Linked DNA regions of Homo sapiens. The protein of the gene in region 6 purifies or fractionates together with the protein of the main gene of each other region. This does not show direct contact. Each region holds a gene or a part of one and is shown on either strand. Other genes may lie near its edges. The genes, in order: LPAR1, HAT1, HNRNPUL1, POLD3, HPN, MAP2K3 and PDAP1.

Evidence for each region.
Region 1: the proteins of MAP2K3 (region 6) and LPAR1 purify together in Homo sapiens (co-immunoprecipitation; one large-scale study listed by IntAct). This does not show direct contact.
Region 2: the proteins of MAP2K3 (region 6) and HAT1 purify together in Homo sapiens (affinity purification with mass spectrometry; one large-scale study listed by BioGRID and IntAct). This does not show direct contact.
Region 3: the proteins of MAP2K3 (region 6) and HNRNPUL1 purify together in Homo sapiens (affinity purification with mass spectrometry, with the first as the bait; one large-scale study listed by BioGRID). This does not show direct contact.
Region 4: the proteins of MAP2K3 (region 6) and POLD3 purify together in Homo sapiens (tandem affinity purification; one large-scale study listed by IntAct). This does not show direct contact.
Region 5: the proteins of MAP2K3 (region 6) and HPN purify together in Homo sapiens (co-immunoprecipitation; one large-scale study listed by IntAct). This does not show direct contact.
Region 7: the proteins of MAP2K3 (region 6) and PDAP1 purify together in Homo sapiens (affinity purification with mass spectrometry; one large-scale study listed by BioGRID and IntAct). This does not show direct contact.

Annotation. Positions count from the first base shown.
Region 1 is NC_000009.12:111,028,471-111,031,970, forward strand, and holds part of LPAR1 (lysophosphatidic acid receptor 1), read right to left. Parts: intron 1-3,500.
Region 2 is NC_000002.12:171,974,461-171,977,960, forward strand, and holds part of HAT1 (histone acetyltransferase type B catalytic subunit), read left to right. Parts: intron 1-1,696; coding exon 1,697-1,848; intron 1,849-2,231; exon of another isoform or gene 2,232-2,998; intron 2,999-3,500. UniProt on the Homo sapiens protein: Histone acetyltransferase that plays a role in different biological processes including cell cycle progression, glucose metabolism, histone production or DNA damage repair. Coordinates histone production and acetylation via H4 promoter binding.
Region 3 is NC_000019.10:41,305,330-41,308,287, reverse strand, and holds the end of HNRNPUL1 (heterogeneous nuclear ribonucleoprotein U-like protein 1), read right to left. Parts: intron 2,643-2,958; coding exon of another isoform or gene 2,613-2,642; coding exon 2,421-2,612; intron 1,840-2,420; coding exon 1,723-1,839; 3' UTR 501-1,722; downstream 1-500.
Region 4 is NC_000011.10:74,599,082-74,602,581, forward strand, and holds part of POLD3 (DNA polymerase delta subunit 3), read left to right. Parts: intron 1-3,500. UniProt on the Homo sapiens protein: Accessory component of both the DNA polymerase delta complex and the DNA polymerase zeta complex.
Region 5 is NC_000019.10:35,040,251-35,044,520, reverse strand, and holds the start of HPN (serine protease hepsin precursor), read right to left. Parts: upstream 2,801-4,270; 5' UTR 2,649-2,800; exon of another isoform or gene 2,069-2,648; 5' UTR 2,015-2,068; coding exon 1,999-2,014; intron 1-1,998. UniProt on the Homo sapiens protein: Serine protease that cleaves extracellular substrates, and contributes to the proteolytic processing of growth factors, such as HGF and MST1/HGFL. Plays a role in cell growth and maintenance of cell morphology.
Region 6 is NC_000017.11:21,291,211-21,294,710, reverse strand, and holds part of MAP2K3 (dual specificity mitogen-activated protein kinase kinase 3), read right to left. Parts: intron 1-3,500. UniProt on the Homo sapiens protein: Dual specificity kinase. Is activated by cytokines and environmental stress in vivo. Catalyzes the concomitant phosphorylation of a threonine and a tyrosine residue in the MAP kinase p38.
Region 7 is NC_000007.14:99,398,598-99,402,097, forward strand, and holds part of PDAP1 (28 kDa heat- and acid-stable phosphoprotein), read right to left. Parts: intron 1,828-3,500; coding exon 1,706-1,827; intron 1-1,705. UniProt on the Homo sapiens protein: Enhances PDGFA-stimulated cell growth in fibroblasts, but inhibits the mitogenic effect of PDGFB.

The DNA.
Region 1 (3,500 bases), on a different chromosome or scaffold from region 6:
AAATTGAAATGAGTATAATTTAAAAGAATCATAATGGCTTAGAAAAAAGAAAACTAAGAATAAACTTGTCTTTTTTCTATCTTGCATGCAAAAAGGCATGCCAATAAAATTATCTAAGGTGAAAATAAATTCTTAATTAGAAAAAGACTTTTTTTTTTTTTTACCAAGTAAAGGACAAACTTGTACTGCATCCTACTTTTTAGTAGGCAACTAAAGCTTAAAATTATTTGATCAGACTTTTAAAACCTCTATGACAAACCTTTACGAGTTTCTCAAAGCGTGGTCTTTAGGCTACTGAAATTTCCAAAGTTCTTCTGGAAGGTTTACCTTTTATATGACAGCAATATGAGACTCACTGCCACTAGTCCTACAGTAAATTAAAACTATATCTGCAACTTCCCCCAGACGTCAAATCACCATCTAATTATTGTAAGGATTTTTTTCCAGATAACAATAGCTGGAATGGGGTGTTTCAGGGATTTTTTGTTCACCCCAGTGGGTATTGTTGAAATTTGCACCATTTCCTTCCTATCTCCCCAGGACCACCTATCAAGAGAAGCCATAGTAAACGCTCAACAAATGCTTGATAACCGATAAAACTACTTTAATCTGCTAAAGAAAAATAACCTAAAGAATTGAAATAAGCCTTGTCCTTGTTAAAATATATCAATCTTTTCACTCTAAAAGTGCTCTCCAGCTTATCACACACATTTTACTGGCATTTACTTCTACATTTAGCAATTATGCCTGAATACTGCCAACTGACTTCTCAGCTAAACTTCAAACTCAAATTGCCAGCCACCAGCTGAAAATCTCTGCCTGCATGGTTTTAGACATGTCTAAAACTAACAAGCCTCACTGCAACAATCATCATGCTCTCGTGTCCTGTCTGGTAATGGCATCAACATGCCCTTTTTTGTCCACAGTAGTCTCCAGTACCCTTCTACCTCCACAAGCTTCGAGATTGGTCCCACCACTTCCTGCCACAAACCGTCAATTTCAGGCACTCCTCCCCAAGCCTGTCACTCACTGGGTCTTCCTCATTACTCTTCTGCATGGAATGAGCTCCACAGACCATTGAGGCTGGCATCCTGCTGCAAGTCATTTCCCTCCTCTAAGGCTGACTTACCCTCTCCATCCTCAGATATGCAGACAGCTCTTTGTTTGAAACTTGGTTTACCGTATTCATCACTACCTACCTGATCTTAATCATTTGAGTCCATATCGCTCCATGTTCATGAGCTACTCAAGAGCGGGGACCGTACTTTCTTAATTTTTTTTTAATTTTAGTGTCCTCAGGCCAGGCACGGTGGCTTGGGCCTGTAAACCCAGCACTTTGAGAGGCCGAGGCGGGTGGTTCACTTGAGGCCAGGAGTTCAAGACCAGCCTGGCCAACACAGTGAAACCCCATCTCTACCAAAAAATACAAAAAAAATTAGCCAGGCATGGTGGTGCACGCCTGTGGTCCCAGCTACTTGGAAGGCTGAGGCAAGAGAATTGCTTGAACCCAGGAGGCAGTGAGCCAAGATCGTGCCATTGCACTCCAGCCTGGGCAATAAAGTGAGGCTCTGCCTCAAAAAAAAAAAAAAAAAAAAAAAAATTTAGTGTCCTCAGCCAAACGTAAGGACACAGAAGTTCTCCAAGATATCAGCTGCATGAAACTAAACTGACAGCGTCTCAAAGTGACCAGAGAACAGATTGTGCTAAATCTGGAAAAGTCAGTCATCTTGCCCTAGCCTTTGAACCTTTACTTTTCTGTGCCTAGTCAGAAAGTAAAGCAAGCAGTTCTCTGTGGAACTACAATAAATAGTGGGTACAGAATGAATGCCTCACTTAGTTGACAATAATCCTTCTCCCCACAATCGTAGTCCAAGAAGGCAAAGCATCCCCTTAACAAAAGGCAATTCTGTTTCAGTTGTGTTATTCTCTTAGTAAGAACACACCATCCTTATCATCTGCTGATTACAGACTTCCAAGGCGGGGGTCCTCACTGAATACTCCTACAATGAAACCTGCCTATAATGAGTAACTCTACCTATCTTCTCTGCTCCAGAAGTGGTTGAAAGGCCTTTCATTCAGGCCTTGTTTTCTACCTAACAAAAGGTTCACAGATGCCAAACACGTGCTCCAAAATGCCCCTCCTCCCGTCGTCTGAGACCCAGATGAAGCAGGGTCCTTGTGGCAATAATATTCTCTGCAATGCTTTTTGTCGTCTTGGTTGTCACACAGCTGGAAATAGTTTTCTTATTCCCGTTTACAATAGCCAGACATTCATTATCACTCTGACAAGAACTCTTGAGTGATGTCATGCTGCACATGCTGCACCAGTTCAAGAAGGGCCCATGCAGGCTCTTCCAGCTTCAAACTTCTCACTCTTGATGGCAGCCTCAAGTATAGCCTCTCTAAAGCAAAAGAAAATGGAGGCAGGCACAGACAGATACACACACAAACATACATATGAGTATGTATAAACATATCCACACTTATCCCACACACACATAAATATACATAAATATTAATTTTTGTAGGTTTGTATAAGTAAAAGGACAACTATGGAAGGCTATGGAACAAACTGATATCAGATGGGTAAGGTTAAAGTGGCAGAGAGAGATTTTTACATTTACTTTAGACACATCTATAGTGTTTGAATCATTGCAAAAAAAAATTTTGTAAATGAATGCAGCTACCCTCTCCTGGTTGGGATGCATTTTATTGTGTTTGTATCCCTGAGTGACTTCAAGATCATAAGTGAAATACATTAGTGAAGCAAAGCACCATGACAGGGTGACTTCAAAATAAGTATTAGCCAGATGCGGTGGCTCACAGCTGTCATCCCAACACTTTGGGAGGCCAAGGTGAGAGGATCCCTTGAGCCCAGGAGTTTGAGAACAGCCTGGGTAATGTAGTGAGAGCCCATTTCTTTAAAAAAAAAAAAAGAAAAAAAAAAAGAAAAGAAAAAGAAAGAAGAAGAAAGAAAGAAAAAGAAAAAAAATAGCCAGGCATAGCGGCACACACCTGCGGTCCCAGCTACTTGGAAGGCTGTAGTGGGAGAATAGCTTGAGCCCAGGAGGTCAAAGCTGCCGTGAGCCAGGATTATGCCACTGCACTCCAAGACCCTATCTCAAATAAATAAAAAATAAGTCTGACTTTCTACAGGCACTAGGTTTGAATTATTCTAGAAAGCAAACTATATACTGAGCAAAGAATCTCAAACACAAGTTGGGTTAAAAGTAAGAATAGGGAAAATGAGATGGAAGCAAGGCAGGGCTACAGATAAAACACAGCTATGTCTATCTCTAGACTTTAAAACAGATAAATCCTAGCAAAATATTTCAAGCATATAAAATGAAAAGGAGATTACCGGGCTCTGTGGTCTCCTTCCTTAAAAGGGAAAGGCCAACTCACCTCAAAGTATTGAGACTACCTTGGAGAAAATGTTCCTAAAATGGAAGAATAACAAGATACATATGCCTGAGTTTGAAGGCATTCTAAAAGAACTT
Region 2 (3,500 bases), on a different chromosome or scaffold from region 6:
TAGTTGCAGTAGTTTTTTGGTTAGAATTTTCCACATACAGGATCACATTGTCTGTAAATAAAGACATTTTTACCTCTTCCTTTGCAGTCAGATGCATTTTCTTTCTTTTTCTTACCCGATTGCTTAGCTGAGAACTCCAATATAATGGTGACTGGCAATGGTGAAAGCAGACATCTATGCCTTGCTCCCAGTTTTAGAGGGAAAGCATTTGGTCTTTCACCATTGTGGATGATGTTAGCTATAGCTTTCATATGTGTTAATTATGAAATTGAGGCAGTTCCCTTCTATTTCTAGATAGTTGATTATTGAGCGTTTTTATCATGAATTGATGTTGGATTTTGTCAAACGCTTTGTTCTGCATGTATTGAATTTTTCTCATTTATTTTGTTAACATGGTATATTACATTAATTGATTTTTTTTGGATGTTAAACCAACTTTGCATTTCTGATATAAATCCCATTTAGTTCTGGTATGTAATTCATTTTATATATTGCCAGATTTGGTTTGCTAATATTTGTTGAGGACATTTGTATCTACATTCATGAGGGATATTGATTTGTAGTTTTTGTCTTAGATCCTTAGTGTCAGCATAACTCTGGCCTCATAGAATGAGTTGGAAAGTGTTTCCTCTATTTTCTTTCTTTTTTTTTTTTTTTTAATGGAGATGGAGTCTCACTCTGTTGCCCAGGCAGGAGTGCAGTGGTACCACCTTGGCTCACTGCAACCTCTGCCTCCCAGGTTCAAGCGATTCTTCTGCCTCAGCCTCCCAAGTAGCTGGGACTACAGGCCTGCGCCACCACTCATGGCTAATTTTTATATTTTTAGTAGAGATGGAGTTTCACCATGTTGGCCAGGCTGGTCTCAAACTCCTGACCTCAGGTGATCCGCCCGCCTCAGCCTTCCAAAGTGCTGGGATTACAGGTGTGAGCCACTGTGCCTGGCCTGTTTCCTCTATTTTCTAGAATAGTTTGTGAAGGATCATCGTTATGTCTTCTTCAGGTTGTTTCATGGAATTTACCAGTAAAGCCATCTGGTTGTAGACTTGTCTTTGTGGGAAGATTTTTAGTTGGTAATTAAATGTCTCTGTTATAGTCAGTTCACATAGTCATTTACTTTTTGAGTCATTTTGGTAATTTCTTTCTAAAAGCTGTCTGTTTCATCTAAATTGTCTCATTTGTTGGCATAAAGTTCATGGCATATTCCCTTTTAATTCTTGTGATTTTTGTAAAGTTGGTAGGAATATCCCTTCTTTCATGCCTGATTTTGGTAAATGTTGTTTTCTCTCTTTTTTTTCAGTCATTCTAACTAAAAGTTTGTCAATTCATCGATCATTTCAAAGAACCAACTTTGTGTTTATGTGAACTTGTCTATTTTTGTTTTCTTTTTCATTGATTTCTACTCTATTATTATTATTGCTTCTTATTACTTTGGGTTTAATTTGCCCTTCCTTATCTAGTTAAGAGTGACTCTTAGGTTATATTGATTTGATGTCTTTTTTCTTTTCTTCTTTTAGACAGAGTCTCGCTCTGTCACCCAGGCTGGAGTGCAGTGGTAGAACCTCCACCTCCCAGGCTCAAGCGATTCTCAGGCCTCAGCCTCCTGAGCAGCCTAGCATATATGTTGAGATTGCAAAAGATGAAGAAATTATATTGAGTATCAGGGAAATGTTAATATTATTCTGCTTTATTTATTTAGCGGAAGATCCATCCAAAAGCTATGTGAAATTACGAGACTTTGTGCTTGTGAAGCTTTGTCAAGATTTGCCCTGTTTTTCCCGGGAAAAATTAATGCAAGGATTCAATGAAGATATGGTGATAGAGGCACAACAGAAGTTCAAAATAAATAAGGTATTTTTATTCTGTAGGAGGAAAACAGATTTAAATTACAAACAAATTTTTGAAGTGTATACCTTAACTAAAATATTATAAAGACATTAAGAATACATGTGTGGGAACTAGCAATGGTTAACAGTACAGCTTTGAAGCCAAATTGCCTGAGTTCAAATCTAGCTCCAACACTTGCTCTGTGATTTATGGCAATTTAATTTACCTCGTGCCTCAGTTTCCTCATTAATAAAATGGGAAGATAATAGGTGTTATTGCTATATTAAGCATAACAAGCAGAGGAAAGATGGATAATAGGATCTTATTTTTACTCTTTAAAGTAGTTGTACCCCTGGAGACATTATTGGTGGGAAGAATGGTTGAAGTAAAACACGTATTTCATTTTATATACTTTTATATATTTATTTAAATTTTAAAGTGGTAAATGTCTTAAGATAGGTACAGAAAAAATAAATATGGAAGTTCAGAGAAGAAAGTTTATTACATTTATGTAAGCAAGGAAATCAGTGGTTATTTCATAGAAAGGATGGCATTTGATATAAACCTTGAAGAATGAGTAGGATTTGGATTATGAAAGTATGTGAGATGGGCTGGGAGTGGTGGCTCACGCCTGTAATCCCAGCACTTTGGGAGGCCGAGGCGGACAGATCATGAGGTCAGGACATTGACACCATCCTGGCTAACATGGTGAAACCCCACCTCTACTAAAAATACAAAAAAGCTGGTCATGGTGGCATGCGCCTGTAGTCCCAGCTACTCGGTAGGCTGAGGCAGGAGAATTGCTTGAACCTGGGGAGGCGGAGGTTGCAGTGAGCTGAGATGGTGCCACTGCACTCCAGCCTGGGCGACCGAGCGAGACTCCATCTCAAAAAAAAAAGAAATTTGTGTAGGCCGGGCGAGGTGGCTCACGCCTGTAATCCCAGCACTTTGGGTGGATCACGAGGTCAGGAGTTCGAGACCAGCCTGTCCAATATGGTGAAACCATGTCTCTACTACAAATACGAAAATTAGCTGGGCGTGGTGGCGCGTGCCTGTAATCCCAGCTACTCAGGAGGCTGAGGCAGAAGAATCGCTTAAACCTGGGAGGCGGAGGTTGCAGTGAGCCGAGATCATGCCACTACACTCCAGCCTGGGCAACAGAGAGAGACTTCATCTTAAAAAAAAAAAAAAGAAAAGAAATTTGTTTAATAGCTCAGCTTTTAAAAGAACAGGCATATGAATATATATATATATATATATATATATATATATATTTTTTTTTTTTTTTTTTTTTTAATGGTGCTTTCTTAAAAAAAGAATTCAAACTCCCTACCTAGAGCACAAAGAGCCCATGATAATCTGGACCCTGCCTACCTTGCTAGCTTCAGCCTGTTAGTACTTTGCCACATGCTCTGGCTACTTTGCCACATGCTCTGGCTTTACTCATCTTCTAGCCATTTCCCAACTCTGCCACATCCTTCTTCCTTCTGTATTCCTTTACATATTCTGTTCTCTTTACCTGAAATACTCCCTTTTCCTAATTGCCTGGCCAGATAGTACTCATTTTTTCAGGTTCAACTCAGGTTCCCTTCCAGGAAGTCAGAAAATATTACCTTCCCAACCTATCCATACCCCAACTCCCTGCCCAAATAAATACATAAGTGAAACAACATCAA
Region 3 (2,958 bases), on a different chromosome or scaffold from region 6:
CCCCAGGCTCTCACAGCTGACCACTTGGTGCTGGCAGGTCTTTGTTCTCTCTGGAGTGGGAGCTCTGTGAGAACGGGGTCCAGGACTGCCGTGGCCATACTATGTCCCCAGCACTGTCCAGGACAGCTGAAGAACACAGCAGGTGGCTCACACACACTGGCTGAAACATGAAGCTCCTGGAATCCCCATGAGCCCCAAACACAGAACAGGCAGGAACTGTCCTCCGTGCTGCACACAGGCCAGGCCTGAGGCAGGTGGTCTGTGGATGCCCAGTGATGATGCCAAACAAACCAGCCCTGGTCTCTGCCCCATCAGTCCCACCCATCCCTCCACCTAGAGGCCTGTTCCATGTCCTTTACTCAAAAACTCCTGGAGGGATTTTAGACTGTGAGAGGTAGAGAACAAGAGAAGCACTTTAAAAATGAACTAGTGGATTTTAAACCAGGGACCCTTGTTTAAGCGTGCATTTTTAGCACCAAAATCGGGGCCAGGCACATGAATCCCTCAGTTAAGTTGTTTAATGAATGAGTAAATAATTTCCCTTTAAAGAGGCCCCCACCCCAATTAACGGCCAACTGCAGTAACACTTCAGGGTTTCAACCCTGCTTCCTTCCTGCTAGGAGGTGCCATGTCATTTATTCAAAGAAAACAAAACGAAACCAAACAAAACAGGGCAAACACATTTCTTAATAAGTGCAGTTTGTTAAAATCATGTTAAAACATATGAGTCAAGGGGAAGTAAAAATAAAGGGTATCACTGTAGGAAAAGCTTTTGGGTCTGGCACCTGGGAGACCACTGGAGAGGAGGCAGTGGGAGAAACTTCAAGTTCTGAAGGGAAGGAGCCCCCCAACCTCCCCTTCTTCCCTCTCACCCACTGAATCCCACCAGAAACTACCAAGACGCCCGGAATAAAAGGTTTCAAGTTCAATAGTCACTCTCTCCAAATACAAAAAGCAGTTACAATTCAACTGAACACAGAAGCTTGTGTGCAAAGTTATGGGGAACTGGGGCATCGTATAAAAAGTTGGGTTAAAGATGATTCTGTGGTTTGGTTTTGTTGTGTTTTGTTTTGTGGCTCTTCCTCAGTCACCTGAACTCAGGAAAGAAATGCTTATCTTGATGAAATATCAACAGCCCACCCACAGTAAAAAGACAAATTCTAAAAATTAAAAAAAAGCGCATAATTACCAAAAAAAAGTCACTGCTTCCTCCCCCTCCCCATTTTGCTTTTTAAACTTTTTTTTTTTTAAGTTTTGATTTTTTTTTTAATCCTGAAAAGTAGACAGTAAAACAGCTCCTGGGAGAATTTACAACCAACTGCATGAGGGTCTGGGAAGCTGAGGGGCTGGAGCAGGGTTGGGAGAGTGAACAGGAGGGGATTCTCCCCTCAGTCACTGTAGCCTCACTGTATGATCAAGGGAGGTGGGGATTATTTAGTCAAAAAGGAAGAAGGTAGGAAGAACAGGAGGTGGAAGGCTGGGGAGGTGGGGACAAACAGAAAATAAAAGGTCATTGTTGCCTGTTTGAATCCAGAAAAAAATGCCTGGCCCTATGGAGGGGAAGGAAGCCCCTCAGAGGGGAGGCAGTGGGCTGGAGGGAGGCAGCCCTGGGATGACCCCATCCCCAGCACCACGGGATCTGGCGGGGGCAGAGGAGGGGCCGAGGCAGGCGCTGGTGGAGGAAGCCGGCAGGGGCCTCCGGGAGCCTCTGGGTCACACTGGCTACTGTGTACTTGTGCCACCCTGTGTGTTCCCGGAGTAGCTCCCGTAGTCGTAGTTCCCGTAGTATGGCGGCCACTGGCCCTGGTTCTGATAGTACTGGTTCCACTGCTGGGCATACTGGGGAAAGAAACCAAGAACACCAAGTTGTCCTGCATCCACCACACATTTAGCCTCCCCACCAGCCCCACCCTCACCTAGGGCAGAGACAGCTGCAGTGACAACAGTTGAACACAGGTCCCCTGACAGAGAAATCAAGGCACCTTGGAAAGACCTGACACCACACAGGTAGGCAGTTAGGGACTGAAGCCCAGGTCTCAGCTTGTCAACCCAGTGCCTTTTGGGTATAGCTAGATATCATAGTCAAAAGATTTAGTAACAGGTATGGGGGCCTGGGCACCAACCTGCAGCAGGATTTGGAGCCCCCTGTCTATGGTGCTGAAAGAGGACTCTGAGGCCCCTGGTACTTAGGCCAGCCCTTCCCCTTCACTTGCTAGACTGTGGAGGGGGCTAGGATACCAATTACCTAGCAACCAGTGCAGAAGTGTTGACCAAATGGAATGGCTGCACCAGATGAACGCCAGGCCGAGGCCAGCAGGCTGTCTTTTTAGGGATAAGCAGGGACTTAAGTCTGGGAATACACACCCAGGAGGGGCCCATGGAAGTCTCTCCATCCAGTTGGCCCCCAGTCTGGCACCTACCTGCTGATACTGGTTATAGCTGGGCTGAGGGTAGGTCTGTGCAGTGGGGGGTGGCGGTGGGGTATAGGGGGCCGGGTTGTAACCGCCGTAGCTCCCATAGTTGTAGGCAGGTGGTGGTGGAGGTGGAGGCGGTGGGGCTGTGTAGCCCTGGCTGTAACCTCCCTGGTTGTAGGGTGGCTGGCTGTAACTCGGCTGGAAAGTGGAGGGAAAAAAGCCAAAGCTCTGTGAAATAGAGGAAATCTGCAGATGTGAAATGCTGGGATGGAAAAAGGGCCTTTTTAAGTGGTTGGCCCACAGGGGCCCTTCCCTTGCCTAGTGGACATTGTTTGTGGGCTGAGAAGGAGGAGAGCCAGCTCCATGCCATGGTAGGGCAGGATGAAGGGCAAGCCCCAGGGCTGTGATGTGGACTCTAACCCCAGCTCTGAGACCCCCAGGGAGCAAGGTACACGGCACTTCTTGAAATCTCAGTTTTCTTTTTTATAAAATGAGAATCACAATAGAACAAGAACAACTCCTTTAGCTTGCCCTGGGTATCCAA
Region 4 (3,500 bases), on a different chromosome or scaffold from region 6:
GAGTGCAGTAGTTCAAACATGGCTTCCTTTAGCCATGACCTCCTAGGCTTAAGGGATACTCCCACCTCAGTCTCCTGAGAGTAGCTGGGACCACAGGTACATGCCACCATGCTAGCTGATTTTTTTATTTCGTAGAGTTGGGATCTTGCTGTGTTGACCAGGCTGGTCTTGAACGTCTGGACTCAAGCAGTCCTCCTGCCTCAGCCTCCCAAAGTGCTGAGATTATAGGCATGAGCCACCATGCTCGGCCTCACTATAGTATTTTCACAAACATTTCTCTCAAGTAATTTTTTTTTTTTTTTTTGACGGAGTCTCGCTCTGTTGCCTAGGCCGGAGTGCAGTGGCGGAACTCAGCTCACTGCAACCTCCACCTTCCAGGTTCAAACGATTCTCCTGCTTCAGCCTCCTGAATAGTGGGGATTACAGCACCTGCCACCACGCCTGGCTAATTTTTGTATTTTTAGTAGAGACAGGGTTTCACGATCTTGGCCAGGCTGGTCTTGAACCCCTGACCTCGCAATCTGCCCACCTCGGCCTCCCAAAGTGCTGGGAGTACAGGCTTGAGCCACCGTGCCTGGCCTCATACTGTTTTTTTTTAGCATTATTTCAGGCTATGTCATACAACAGTAAACCTGACAGACAGGGTCCCTCCCCTGGTTGATTTAAACAAGATAATTTCAGACTGTGAAAATGCTGTGAAATAATTAAGTTGGGTTAGAGAAAGCGGTATGGGCAATACACTGTACTCATCCTGGGGAACATTATGGGTGGAACTGATCAGGAGGGAAGATTAATGAATTAAAATGGGAAGCTATAATTAATCATGTGTAGGAAGTGTATCTTGTAAGAAGTCATATATGTTGTTATTATTATTATTTTTTTTTTTTTTGAGACAGCTCTGTTGCCCAGGCTGGAGTACAATGGTGCAATCTCGGCTCACTGCAACCTCCGCCTTTAGAATTCAAGCAATTCTCCTGCCTCAGCCTCCCGAGTAGCTGGGACTACAGGCACATGCCACCACGCCTGGCTAACTTCTTGTATGTTTAGTAGAGATGGGGTTTCACCATGCTGGCCAGCTGGTCTTGAACTCCTGACCTCGTGATCCGCCTGCCTCGGCCTCCTAACATGCTGGGATTACAGGCATGAGCCACTGTGCCCAGCCTGTTGTCATTCTTATTTAAGAATATTTTATATTTTGTTTATTAAAAAATATTTGGCTTAGGCTGGGCGCGGTGACTAATGCCTGTAATCCTAGCACTTTGGGAGGCCGAGGAGGGCAGATTGCCTGAGCTCAGGAGTTTGAGACCAGGCTCAAGCTATCCTCCTGCTTCTGCCTCCCTGAGAGCTGGGATTACAGGCGTGAGCCACCACACCTGGCGCTACTGAAATACAAAAATACTAAAATACAAAAAATTAGCCAGCGTGTGCCTGTAGTCCCAGCTACTTGGGAGGCTGAGGCAGGAAAATCACTTGAACCTAGGAGGCAGACATGGCAGTGAGCTGAGATCGCGCCACTGCACTCCAGCCTGGCGACAGAGCGATACTCTATCTCCAAAAAAACAGAAAAGTTTGGCTTAAATTAGATAAAACATGTTTTAAAGACTCAAAAAGTAGGCAGGAATTCTTTCCTTTTTTTTTTTTTTTTTTTTTTTTGAGATAGGATTTTGCTCTTGTTGTCCAGGCTGGAGTGTGATGGCACGATCCCAGCTCACTGCAACCTCTGTCTCCCAGGTTCAAGCGATTCTCCTGCTTCAGCCTCCCGAGTAACTGGGATTACGGGCATGCGCCACCATGTGCCCGGCTAATTTTGTATTTTTAATAGAGACGAGGTTTCTCTATGTTGGTTAGGCTGGTCTCAAACTCTCAACCTCAGGTGATCTGCCTGCCTTGGCCTCCCAAAGTGCTGGGATTACAGGTGTGAGCCACCGCACCCAGCCACAAGAATTGTTTTTTAAAATAAGAGTTTGCTTTGCATTTTCTGTTAATATAAGAGAGAAGAACTGGGGTCAATTTGGGGAGACAAGTGCATAGAGGACAATGACTGATGATATGGGCAGGACTATTAGTTGTGGATAAAAGATAGTGCATTTGGCCAGCAAGCTTGCAAGCATTTTGGGCATGGTACCTGCCTATCATGTCTTCCTTTAGCATGGTCCAAACTAGCATCAATAAACCAAAATGTTTGTGGATCTGTTAGCTCATTTATCCTTCTAACACAATTGTTGTAATGGAAAGAAACATTAGAGGGCAAAGAGGAGGAATCAGCAAAAATCCTGACTAGGGCACCTTTTTGTACTCAAGGTGTTAACAGTCTAGAGGGGATGCGTCATATGTAAAATAAATAGTTAGAAGGCAGGGTGATATGTGCTGTAATAATAGATATGGGATAAAATTTGTTAGAGCTTGGATGGCAGAAGCTCATTGTCTAGGCATGATGGCTCACTCCTGTAATCCTAGCATTTTGAGAGGCCAAGGCAGGAGGATCACTTGAGCGCAGGGGTTCGAGGTCAGGCTGGGAGATATAACAAAAGCCTGTTTCTACCAGGAAGAAAAAATAATAACCAGGCATGGTAGCATGCACCTGTGGTCCTGTTTACTTAGGAGGCTGAGGAAGGAGGATGGCTTGAGCCCAGGAATTCAAGGTTATAGAGAGCTGCGCCACTGCACTTCAGCCTGGGCGACAGAGTGAGACTCTATCTCTTAAAAAAAAGATGTGCCCTGGTGACCTGATGGTGTTGGGGAAGGGTTCATACTTCATAGAGGAGGTGACAACTGAGCTGCTGTCTTGATGAGAAATTAGGTAGTTGAGGCCTGAGAAGAGCCTTCTAGGCAGAAGGAAGGGCATATACAAAGGAATAAAGAGAATTGTAGAATGTTTCATTAAGGATGAAGATAGTGTAGGTATGATGGGGAATGGTCAGAGATACAGAGCCCAGAACAAGAAGGGTCTTACCTGTCATTGCTAGAGATTTGAAGTTGATCCTTAGGGGATGAGAAGCTACTGAAAGCTTTGTTACACTTTTTTTTTTCTCCTCCCTTTTTGTGGAACATGGGGTCTCGCTATATTGCCCAGTCAGGTCTTGAACTCCTGTGCTCAAGCTATCCTCCTGCTTCTGCCTCCCTGAGAGCTGGGATTACAGGCGTGAGCCACCACACCTGGCGCTACTGAAAGCTTTATAACAAGGAATTATGTTTCAGACAAGACTCTCTAGCAACCTTTTCAACATCAACAGTGACTAATAGGCATTGCAAATTTAATATGCCCCCAAACCTAACTCCTGACTTCTCCCCTCAACACCTGCTTTTCCTGCTTTTCCCCCATCTCAGTGAATTACAGCTTCCTTCTTTGGGTTGCCTAGTCCAGTCATTTTTGACTCTTCTTTCTCTTACACTTCAACACAGTATATCAGCAAATCCTGTTGTTTCTCACTTTAAAATATACCCAGAATTCATCCACTAATTACTACCTGCACTGCTACTGCCCCAAACTGAGCTACCAG
Region 5 (4,270 bases), on a different chromosome or scaffold from region 6:
ACTGCAAGGAATTGGCCAGCTCTTCCCCAAAACAGTCCCACCCCTGCCTGGTCCAGCTTGCACACCTCTTCTCCCACCCAGCTCAACTTCCAGCTTCACCTCCAGAAATACCACAATTGGCTACGTGCACACCAGTGCTGTGTCACCTCCCAGCTTCCCAGAGAAGAGCAAGAGCCTTGCTCTTCCCTCTGCCTGGCATCCTTGGAATTGCAACTCCAGTATCACCTCCTCCAATTCCAAGTTTCCAGGCAGCACCAAGAAGCCAGCAGCAATAACAGTGACACCAACAACAGCAGCCGCTGCAGCCACAACGGCTCTCTGAATCACACACGGACGCACCGCCCTACCCTAACCCCGTCCAGTCCTGCACAGCATCCTTACTTAAATCCTTGCAGCTGTTCACGAGGAAGGCGCCATTGCCATCACCCCCAGTTTACAGATGAGAAAAGGAGGCCCAAAGTCCGGCAGCCACCAAACCCGGGTCACCCGGCAAGTAAGTGCAGAATCGGAACCCTTCAGCATCTGTGTCCAGGTTCGACCTCCACACCCCTAGCCCTGACAGCAGGACTCCCCTCCAAGACCAGCCCGGAGCTGCCAGGGAGGCACCAGAGCCCACTTTGTGTCTGTTTCTCTTTGTACCCAGGCCATCTCTGTCCATTCGGGCATTTTCTGCTTTTCTTCCCTGGCTCATTCACCCATGGGCCCAAGCCCTGGGGCTGTCCTTCCGGCAGCTCCAGGAAAGAGATTGTCCCCAAGGAGCTGGATTCTGTCATCCACCTGCTCGGCTAGGGTGCAATGCCTTCTCCTGAGTAACTGGGAGCCTGGGTTCCCTCTGGACTGCAGCTGATTGGTTTGGGGTCTGAATTGCCAGCTGTGCCGAGACCCGAGGAGGCCAGAGATCTGAACTAATCATTTCAGCCAACACGCTCAGTGCTTCCTGCCCATCCTGGCATTTCAGGCCTCGCCCCACGCTGTTGGACATGCACTGTCACCCTCTCCATTTCACAGATGAGAGAATGGAGGCCCAGGGAGAACACGCCGTCTGCCCAGGGCCACACAGCTAGAAAGTGCTACTGCCCAGGACTGAGCCCGGCTATCCTGGTTGCGGAAGAAGAGAGGGAGTCAGCCCCAGCTAGGGGAAGGCAGAAAGAACAGGACGCCCCTCCATGCGCCCCTCCAGCTGGGTCCCATGTGTGAGAGGTAGAAAGGAAGCCAGGCTAGCTGGGGGCTGCCCAGAGACTCCCAAGGGCCAGCAACTCCATGACGCAGTCTCTCTCTCTCATCCTTATGGTGGTTTCTCTGCCGTCTCTCCCCTCTCCATCCATCCAGGCCCAGTCCAAAGTCCTCCCTCTGCTCTTTTGCCCACAGAGCCAGGAGGTGGAGGAATGTCTGGGATCGGTGGGGGTCCTGGGTCTCTGGGACTCCGAGTTTGCCAACCTCTGTCATGACAGCTCTGCTTGATGGCATGCGTCTTATATGCAGAGCCCCAGACCAGTGCCTGGTGTGTGTCATGCACTCAGCAACCTCACAGAGGGAGGACTGGTATCCATGCTTGACCCAGAGGGAGACCAAAGCCCTAAGAATAATGTCACTTGCACCAGATCACACAGCAAAAAAGATGGCAAGAGCAAATTCAAATGCAAGCCTGTGTGTTTCACTCCAAATCTGTGTCCTTAACCATGACAGCTACAGCTTCCCCGCCTCAGCCCCAGCAGAGGACAAGTCCAGAGTTAGCTGAGAAATCACTGGGGGATGAGGGGAAACTGAGGCAGCACGCCAGGAAGGTCACATAGGGTAGAAGGGAGGCTGGTGGTGGCACAGCTGCACAGAAAATGTGGTTAATAGTTAATCAGGTGGAGGAGGACTAACAGGGGTGGGGATGCATCTGGGAGGGGTGCCCAGAGAGAGGGGGCTCCGAAGAGTAGAGGGTAGAGAAAAGAGCACAGAGGGCGGGGCGCCAGGCAGAGCCAAAGCTGGGGCTCAGGGAAGGGGACTCACCCTCCTTCTGCGCCATGTCACTGCCTCTTGTTAATGATTCCCTGGCTGACCTCCTGGGCCAGGGTGGGACCTGTGAGGAGATGGACGGGGAGGCAGGGCCTGGGGGAGCCCAGCCCAGCCCAGTCCTGGCGCCCCCAGTCCCAGGCGTCCATCCAGGCAGGCTGTAGGGACTGGGCCTTGGCCAGAGCACGCCGTGATCACGGACGCAGATTGGGCTGGGTTCAAGGATGGGGTCAGTGTCTGACCAGCAGCGGGGGGACGCCTGGATTTGCAGGGATGGGGACCCCCATGCCTGAGCCTGGTGGAGCAGGGGACTGAGGATCCCGGTTTGAGGGAGGAGACAGCTGAGGACCTGAAATCATAAGTCTTGGGAAAGGAGGAATTTGGGGGCCAGGACTCCCTAGTATGAGGGAGGAGGGGCCTGAGGGCTGGAACTCCTGGGTCTGGGGAGGAAAGGACTGGGGTCCAACGGCTGAGTCTGAAGGAAGAGCAGGACAGAACACCTAGGTGCTTGGGGGGACGTCATAGTGCCCCCTCTTCAGGTCCCCAGGAACCCCTCTATTAGGAGGTGGGCATTAGGCTGGGTGGGGGGATGAGGGAACCCCTGTCCTCAGGGCTGGAACTGTGAGTCTGGGGGCCCTTGTCCTTACCCTGGGGTCCAGCAGGTGGGGGCGGAGCCTCGAGGTAGTGCCGGGGTCGGGTCAGTCTCCAGGCCTGGGCAGGAGCATGGTGGCCCCGCAGCAGCGGGCGGCCTGGAGGCAGAGGCGGTGGCGTGGGGCCTGCTAGGCCAGGCTGCCTCACCTGAGGAGGAGGGGGCTGGGCGAGGGGCGGGTGAAGGGGCGGGGAGGGGCCGGACCATTCGATTGGCAGCACTGGAGGCCACCTGGCTGATGGGGCCGGGCTTGTGGGGGCTGGACCAGGCGGGCCCAGCTACGGGGCTTGCCTTGGACCTCCAGGGGGACCCAGGTGTGCCTGTCTGCGGGGATGTGGGAACAGGGACAGGCCTGGCCGGAGGCTGGGGGTTTAGGGAGAAAGTGCAGGCTGAAGGGTGGGGGTCTGACCAGAAGAGATCAGATGGAGGGCCCCAGCTGCCCTAAGCCCACTCCACCCTCACCCAGCGAACCCTTCCCCCCGCCCTTTCTGCGTCCTCCAGCCCCAGGTCCTGGCTGTGCCCGCCACTTGCTGCACCTCTGCCTAATTCCCTGCCCAATTCCTGGGCCCCAACCCCAGCCCCAGCCTCTCCCGCCTGCCCTGCTCATCCTGCCCCGGCCCCTCCCCCGCTGGCTTCCTACAAGTCACGGGGCTGGTTTGCTTTGGCAGCCTCCGCCCGGCCGCGGTGACCTCTGGAGCCAGAAAGTCCTAGCACTAGATAGGGGGGATGGGGGGCTTGGCCGGGAAAACACAGCGCTAAGGGCAGAGGCCCAGGCCAAGTGGCCGGAAGCGTCCGCAGGCAGATAACACACTGTCCCGCCAGCAGCCAGGCGCGGCCCACGTCAGACCCAGGGCCAGGTAAACACCAGACGTGCAGGGTCACCGCCAGACACCTGCCCGTGCTCAACCACACGCCGGACACAGTCGGCCTCGGCTGCTTGCCCCAGATAGGCCACCCGCACAACCGGCCCCACCCGCTTACCCACACGTGCCCGCTGTGCCCAGCCAAACCCACCTCCACCGCACCCATTTCCTCCACTCAGCCCAGGGCCCCTCATTGGGACACGCTGGTTTAGCCTGGCTTCCTCTGCCTTTCCATCCATACCCGTCTCTCCTTCCCTCTCCTTCTCCCCAGCGCCCACCTCTCCAGAGACTCACACTGCTGGGCACACCACACACCCCATGCCACCCCTGCACCCCAGCATCAGCCTCGATTCTCTTCCCTCCACGGCACCCCCTCCCTTCCTGGCTCCGTTCCACTCTCCCTCACCCCTGAGCCCATGGCTCCCCCAACCCCGACACAGATCAGGCACTAAGTGGCTTCACCTGTGGGCCCTCAGGTAGGGTCCCTGGAAAGCGGGCTCGAAGATTCGGGGACGGGAATGGGGGGAAGGTGACGGGGCTCACAATCGAAACTATGCATCAAGTCCAAGAGTCTTTATTTCATGAACAAAACTACTTCTGTAAAGAGACGAGGCTGAATGGGCCCCTTTCTAGGTGGCCACAGTTCAAGGCTGGTGAGAGAGGGCGAGGTTGGGCCGGGGCAGGAGTGCATTACAGGGAGGGGGGACCCCAGGTCCAGCCGGAGGAAGCGGGAGGGGAAATGATGCCGGGGAGGGGG
Region 6 (3,500 bases):
CCCCAGACCACCCCTGTCCACCCTCTCAGTGACTCCACAAGGGAGTAGGGGAGGTTCACTTATCTGTTGTATCAAGCATGCGGGAGAAGAGGTGACTTAGAGAGGCCACACGGTGGGCGTCTGGTGAGGAGTGGCCATAAAGGCAGGTCTGTCTGGCTCCAACGTCCAAACAGCAACAGCCTGAGGGCAGGGCCCCCACTTCGGCTGCTCCCTCTACCCTGGGCCTGGGGAGACCAAGCTGTGTGACCCTCTAAGGGTCACCCACAGGGGCAAGATGACAACCCCTCCTTGCAGCCCCTGCTCCGCCTCCACTCATAAAGTCAGCCCCACACCATGCCACATGCAGGAGCATCACCAGGTTTCTGACAACAGAAGTAATCCCTGCTCCTAGTTCACTGCCCTCACCTGACTTCCGGATGTTCCAGGAGGTCCCTGTTCTACTGCAGAAGTTCTGGGCCTGCCAGGGAAGGAGCCACAAGGGCTGGGAGATGTGAGCAGCAAGAGGCGCCGCCCTGCCCCAGGCCACCTCTATTCCCCAGGGTCCCTCAGAGGGACAGCAACAAGGCCAATGCGCTCCATGGCACGGGGGAAACTGAGGCCCCGAGAAGTGGGCACAGGCTTTTGCGTGGGCAGATGTACCTCGACGGTGTGGATGGATGTGTTTGGCTGCGACCTGCCAGACACTGGCCCCTCTCCCCAGGACAGGTGCCATCAGAGGTCCTGAGGTACTGCAGACGCCACTGCCAAGCACCTGTGGGCAGCAGGGGGTGGCCATGCACCTTCAGGCAGGGCCCCTTGCCCTGAGGTTCTGGGGCCCCTGTCCTGGGCTCTGGAGAGGATGCAGGACAAGGGGAAGGTTCTCCCATCTAACCAAGTGCCTGCTCCATGCCAGGCCCAGGCTGTGCCATCTGGCCTCATACACGGCCACTGCAGGCCCTACCTTCTCTATCCTCACCTTGTAGGTGTGCAGCAGGCTAGGGTGAGGAGGAGTGACCAAGGCTCTGCCCTCCACAGCCCTGCCCTGCCTCTGCCCGGCTGTGCAAGGCCACCTGGCCAGGGCCTGGCCTCCAGGGCCTCACACCCTCCCCACCTCTCTACCCTACAGGGACTTCCTCACCTGCAGAGAACGGGGGATCCCCAGACTATCCACCTGGCAGCGCCCCCTCCCCGGTGATGCTCCGGACCAGCATGGCTCGGGAGCACCCCTAACATCCGGTGGGGAGGCCAGATGCTCAGCTGCACAGGGGCAACCATGGCTGCCAGAGGGTCCTCCCGCCCAATGCCAACAGCCCAGCAGAGACAACCATGGCCCGCCTGCAACATGGAACCACTTGTGCTTTGGAGGGAAGGACGTAGGGAAGGGCCAGAGGCACGGGCCTCGCTGGAGAGGGAAGGAGGCAACACGGGAGGACCCCGGGCAGAGTGGCTGGGGCACAAGGCACGTGAAAGACAGGGGGCCCACAGCAGGTGGCTGCGGGCATCAGGGTGCAGCCTGGCCTCCCATGGCCAGACCTCACCGGTCTGGGTCCTCCATGCCCCATGGCCATCAAAATGCCCATTCTTCTGCATCCAGAAATTCCACGTTGAGCAGCTTACCCCCACACTACAACACCCACTAACATTTAGTGAATACCTACTATGTGCTGGGGTGTCCTGGGGTGTCCTCTGCGTGCCTGGCCTATGCAAATTTCTTTCATTACATCTCATTTGATCCTCTCAGCAACCCCTTGAGGCAGGTACTAATGTGATCTCCATGCTGCAGATGGGGAAACTGAGGCCCAGGGTTTATAGAATCAAAAGGCTGGCACATGGAATTGGTGAGGATCCTGCAGGTCCTCAGCAGGATGCGAGGAGTGGCCTCCCAGGGACAGGAAGAGCCAAGAGCAGCAGGAGTACAGCAGTGTGAGAAAGAAAATGCCGGTCAGACCATGTGAGGTGGCTCACGCCTGTAATCCCAGCACTTTGGGAGGCCAAGGCAGAAGGATTACTTGAGGTCAGGAGTTTGAGACCAGCCTGGCCAACATGGTGAAACCCTGTCTCTACTAAAAATACAAAAATTAGCACATGCCTGTAATCCCAGCACTTTGGGAGGCCAAGGTGGGTGGATTCCTTGAGCTCAGGAGTTCAATACTAGCCTGGGCAACATGACAAAATCCTGTCTCTACAAAAAATAAAACAAAACAAAAATGTAGTGGGCGTGGTGGTGCGTGCCTGTAGTCCCAGTTACCTGGGAGGCTGAGGTGGGAGGATCGTCTGAGCTGTGGTGAGCCATGACTGTGCCACTGGGCAACAGAGCAAGACACTGTCTCAAAAAAAAAAAATGAGAAGAAGAAGGAAAGAAAATGCTGGAGTGTGCAGAGTATTCCGAGGAGAAACAAGAGACTGCCTTTTTGTCCCTTTGAGATTCCTGCACTGTGTGATAAAGGCTACTCAAGTGCAGGCAATTTAAAGAAAAGAAGAAACAAAGAGGCCTGCTTGAAGCCAGCCCCAGCACTCTCCTCTGTCTGAAGGGGCAGCCAGGCTCACTGAGCACAGTACAGCCCCCGCAGCAGGCTGCTCAGGCTGGAGGGTGCCCCAGAGACTGTCCAGTGCAGATGCTGACACCAGGGGCCCCAGGACACGCCTGAGGTGACGCACCAGGGCAGCAGCAGAGTCAGGCCCCCAGCCTGGGTCCCAGCTCCTGCCTTCCCCGCACCTCAGTGGAGAAACCACCACAGCGTCGGCCCGTGCCAGCCTGGGGGCGAGCCACACTCCCTCTCTGTGCAAGCCTCGGTTTCCTCCTTTGACGTCCTATGAACGGGTGAAGGGGCCATGACCTCTGGGAAAGGATGAGCAAGGGTCCGGAGTTGTAAAGACAAAGCCATGCTCCCAGGACAGTCCTTCGTGACCTTGAGCAGGTCACTATCCCACCAGGCCTCAGTTTACTCACTCCTAAGATGGGGTTGATGACAACACACCCAGGTTGCTGGGTAGCCGTGAAGACCAAACAAGTCCATGCACACAAAATCCCCAGCACAAAAGGGGTCAGATCGGTGGGACTCTGGCCCCAGGCTCCCACACTGTGGGGCAGGCCCCATGCTCAGGCTTTAAGAGGCCATGACAGGGCAGGGGGACCCACAAGTGATGCTCAGCCCTCCCAGAGCATCAGAAGAATGGGACATTCCTTGCACCAGGATCGTAGGCTGTGCTCCAAAGGTCCCCACGTGGGCCCGGCTCGAGGTCAGCAAGGCCATTGCCAGCCACCTGCACTGTCGACAGGCCAGTGCTGCTGCTCCTGCAGAACGGAAAACAAACCTGAACAAACGCCATCTGTGCTTCACTGTTATCACTACGTGTTGTGTTGTGTTGTGTTGTGTTGTGTTGTATTGTATTGTACTGTATTCTATTGTATTCTATTGTATTGTATTCTATTGTATTGTATTCTATTGTATTGTATTCTATTGTATTGATTGTATTGTATTTATTTTTGAGACGATTCTCTCTCTATTGCCCAGGCTGGA
Region 7 (3,500 bases), on a different chromosome or scaffold from region 6:
GGAGGCTGAGGCAGGCGGATTGCTTGAGCCCAGAAGTTCAAGGCTGCAGTGAGCTACAATTGCACCACTGCACTCCAGCCTGGGTGACAGAGTGAAATCCTATCTCTAAAAAATACAAACAAAAAAAGGAATGAAGAAGTGGAGGAAGCAGCCACAGGGCATAGGATGAGGACCACAGTGGGAAACAGACACACCCAGTCTCAGGTCAACACCACATGGCCCATTCTTAGAGCAGCTCAGATGTGCACGGTGCTGCCCCCCAAGGGGACAGCCCCCATCAGTAGGGAGATGGGAATAATTGCTGGGCTCCCATGGGACAAAGTGTCAGGAATGAACCCCCTAAGTAGAGTCAGTGGTGAGGGTCATTAGCTTCCTTTTGAGGATCTTCCCAAGCTTGAGATTCTGAACTGGAGTGGATGCCCTTCAGGATGAGATCGGAGGGCCTATTTGCACTGGGTTCCTGGAAGAGCCAAGTGCTGGAGGAGGGGAGGGCCCTGCCTGGCAGGAGGCTGGGAGAGAGACTCGGCCTCCCAGAGGCCTTCAAGGTACACAGAACTGGGGAGTAATGAGAAACCAGGCATGGGAGCTAGCTAGAGGGGAGGGAGAGGGACTCCCGAGTGGGAAGAGCAGATGCCTCACTACAGAGCTGAGGAGATAATACCTGGCGAACCGCAGATCCTAGCTCAGGAGGGATGTGCCACACTCAGAAGCCTCTAAGCTGAGCCTCAGGAATGATGACTAAGGCAGCCCAAAGACTCTGCAGGGCCCTTCAGTGAAAGCAAAATGCCAGGCAGGGTGTCTCTGCAACCCCAAAGGACAGAAGGAGGGAGCAACAGGATCCCTTTTACTGGAGAGGACACTGATGCCCAGAAAGGCACAGCCTTATCGAAGGCTGCACAGCTGCCAATGGCAGAATACCACAGTGGCAGAACACCCAGGTTGCTGGGTTTTTGAAGTCAATGCCAAGAGGAAGCTACTGAAGGGGGACAGAAGGGTCCTTAGCAGCTGCAATCACACCCAAGCTCATGGCCTTCCCCACGAGGCTTTCACAGACACACCCCTCAGCCATTATCCTAAATTCCCAGTCAGGAGAGAAACTAGCAGGCTTCAACCTCTTGTAAGGCCCTTGAGGTCACCTGGTGGCTGCCAAAAGTCAGGGCACCAGTCAAGGACTGATCCTGTGCCAGGCACTTCAGTACATGATCTTGATCCTCATACGACTCTTGAGGAAGATATTTACAGCTTCATTTTCACACAGGACTTGCAGAGGCCTGGGACAGCTGGCTGAGCTGCGCTGGGCTGGACTGCCTTCTGGCCGGCACAGGCTCGCAGCCCCCTTCCAGTCCCCATGGCCACGACATTACAGATGGATGCAGGTCAGGAATGGTCAGATCAGTGGGGTAAGGGAAGTCTCCCCAGGGTGTGGTGCTCTGGAAGAGGGGAATGGAGGGCAACCCTCTGTATCCTGCACCATTACCTCAAGTGTTATGCTCAGGTCTGAGCCTGTTGTCCTATTTCCCCTGATATCATGTATCAATTGGTGAAAACAAATTCTGTGTGGCTTTTTAAAGGCTACTGGAGGGCCATTGGGGAATGAGACAGAAATAAACAGCCACAGCTCCCAGCCAGCTGGGGACCTTAGCATCCCACAGGCCAACTGCTGGCCTGTATTCCCCGTGACACAAGGCCCAGCCAGTGATGTTACCGTTCTCTCCTCGAAAGCTCCTTTGGCCCGTCCAGATCCAGTTGTGTGACCTTTTTGGTTGTCTGTGCCACCCGGTTGGGGTTCTCGATGTCGATGAGCCCTTCAACGCCTTTGCGCTTTTGCTAGAACAGGGCAAGAAGCTGGTTGTTGGAGTTCAGGTCCTGTGGAGCCCCTGAGGGCCACTCCTGCCATCTCTCAACAGCCCATCTGGATGAGGACAAACTCCTGCTCCACCCCAGCCCACGTAGTGCTCAGCCCAAGTCTCACAGTGGGTATAGCTCTCTGGAGCATCTTCATCAGCCTGGGAAGAGCCCACAGAACGGCTGCTCGGGGTCGAATAACTTGCCCAAGTCAACCAGGAAGTAGGTGGTAGATGAGAGGTGCGCCCTACCCCGACTTGCAAGCACTCACACAGCACTACTCCCCTACTTCAAGCTCGGCTTCCAAAAGCAGTTTTCCATGGAATCCCATGCCTGATTCTTCTTGCAAAAAGCGCTGGGCTGGAATCCCCAGGGCAGGGTGGGCCAAGTGTGTGCTGTCATGACTAATTCCAATTCCCACCCACCTTAGCTGATGGACTGGACTTGTAACCCAAGAATAAGCTACTGGATCACACACTCTACAGGTTTGGGACGCTGGCCCAAAAACCTGGAATCTGCACCTTCCACCTCCCCTGCAGAAGTTCCAGAAGAAGGGGGTGTGTTCTCAATGCAGCAGGTTTGGTCAAAGTTTCAGGCCCTGTCAATTCCATCAATTCTCCTTAAGGGGGCAGGGAGACAGCTTCCACTCCACAGAGCTCCCTCCACACACTTCCAGTCCAGCTGCACACTTACACCTCCACTCAGATGCCTGGCACTGTAAACTTAACATGTCCAAGACAGAACTCGAGATTCATCCTTTACCCAACCGGACCCTCCCTGCAATCCTAAGCATATCCTTGATTCGTCGTTCCTTCAGCAACCCCCAAATACAGCTTAAATTTGTCCACTCTTCTCCACTGCCATTGTCACCATCCTAGGGCAAGCCACGATTTTTTTTCTTTTGAGACAGAGTTTCCCTCTTCTTGCCCAGGCTGGAGGGCAATGGCACAATCTCGGCTCACCACAACCTCGGTCTCCTGGGTTCAAGCAATTCTCCTGCCTCAGCCTGAGTATTTGGGATTACAGGCATGAACCACCACCCCCGACTAATTTTGTATTTTTAGTAGAGACAGGTTTTCTCCATGTTGGTCAGGCTGGTCTCGAAATCTCGACCTCAGGTGATCCGCCCGCCTTGGCCTCCCAAAGTGCTGGGATTACAGGTGTGAGCCACCACACCCGGCCCAGGATTTCTGATCTGAACACTGCTCTTACTCTCAACATCCTATCATTCACTCTCCATGAAGAAGCTAAAATAATCTTTTTTTTTTTTTTTTGAGACGGAGTCTCACTCTGTCGCCCAGGCTGGAGTGCAGTGGCATAGTCTTGGCTCACTGCACTCCGCCTCCCGGGTTCACGCCATTCTCCTGCCTCAGCCTCCCAAGTAGCTGGGACTACAGGCGCCTGCCACCACACCTGGCTAATTTTTGTATTTTTAGTAGAGACGGGGTTTCACTGTGTTAGCCAGGATGGTCTCGATCTCCTGACCTTGTGATCCACCCACCTTGGCTTCCCAAAGTAAAATAATCTTTTAAAAGCATATCTGGAGGCTGGGCGCAGTGGCTCACGCCTGTAATCCCAGCCCTTTGAGAGGCCAAGGCAGGCAGATCACGAGGTCAGGAGATTGAGACCATCCTGGCTGACATGGTGAAACGCTA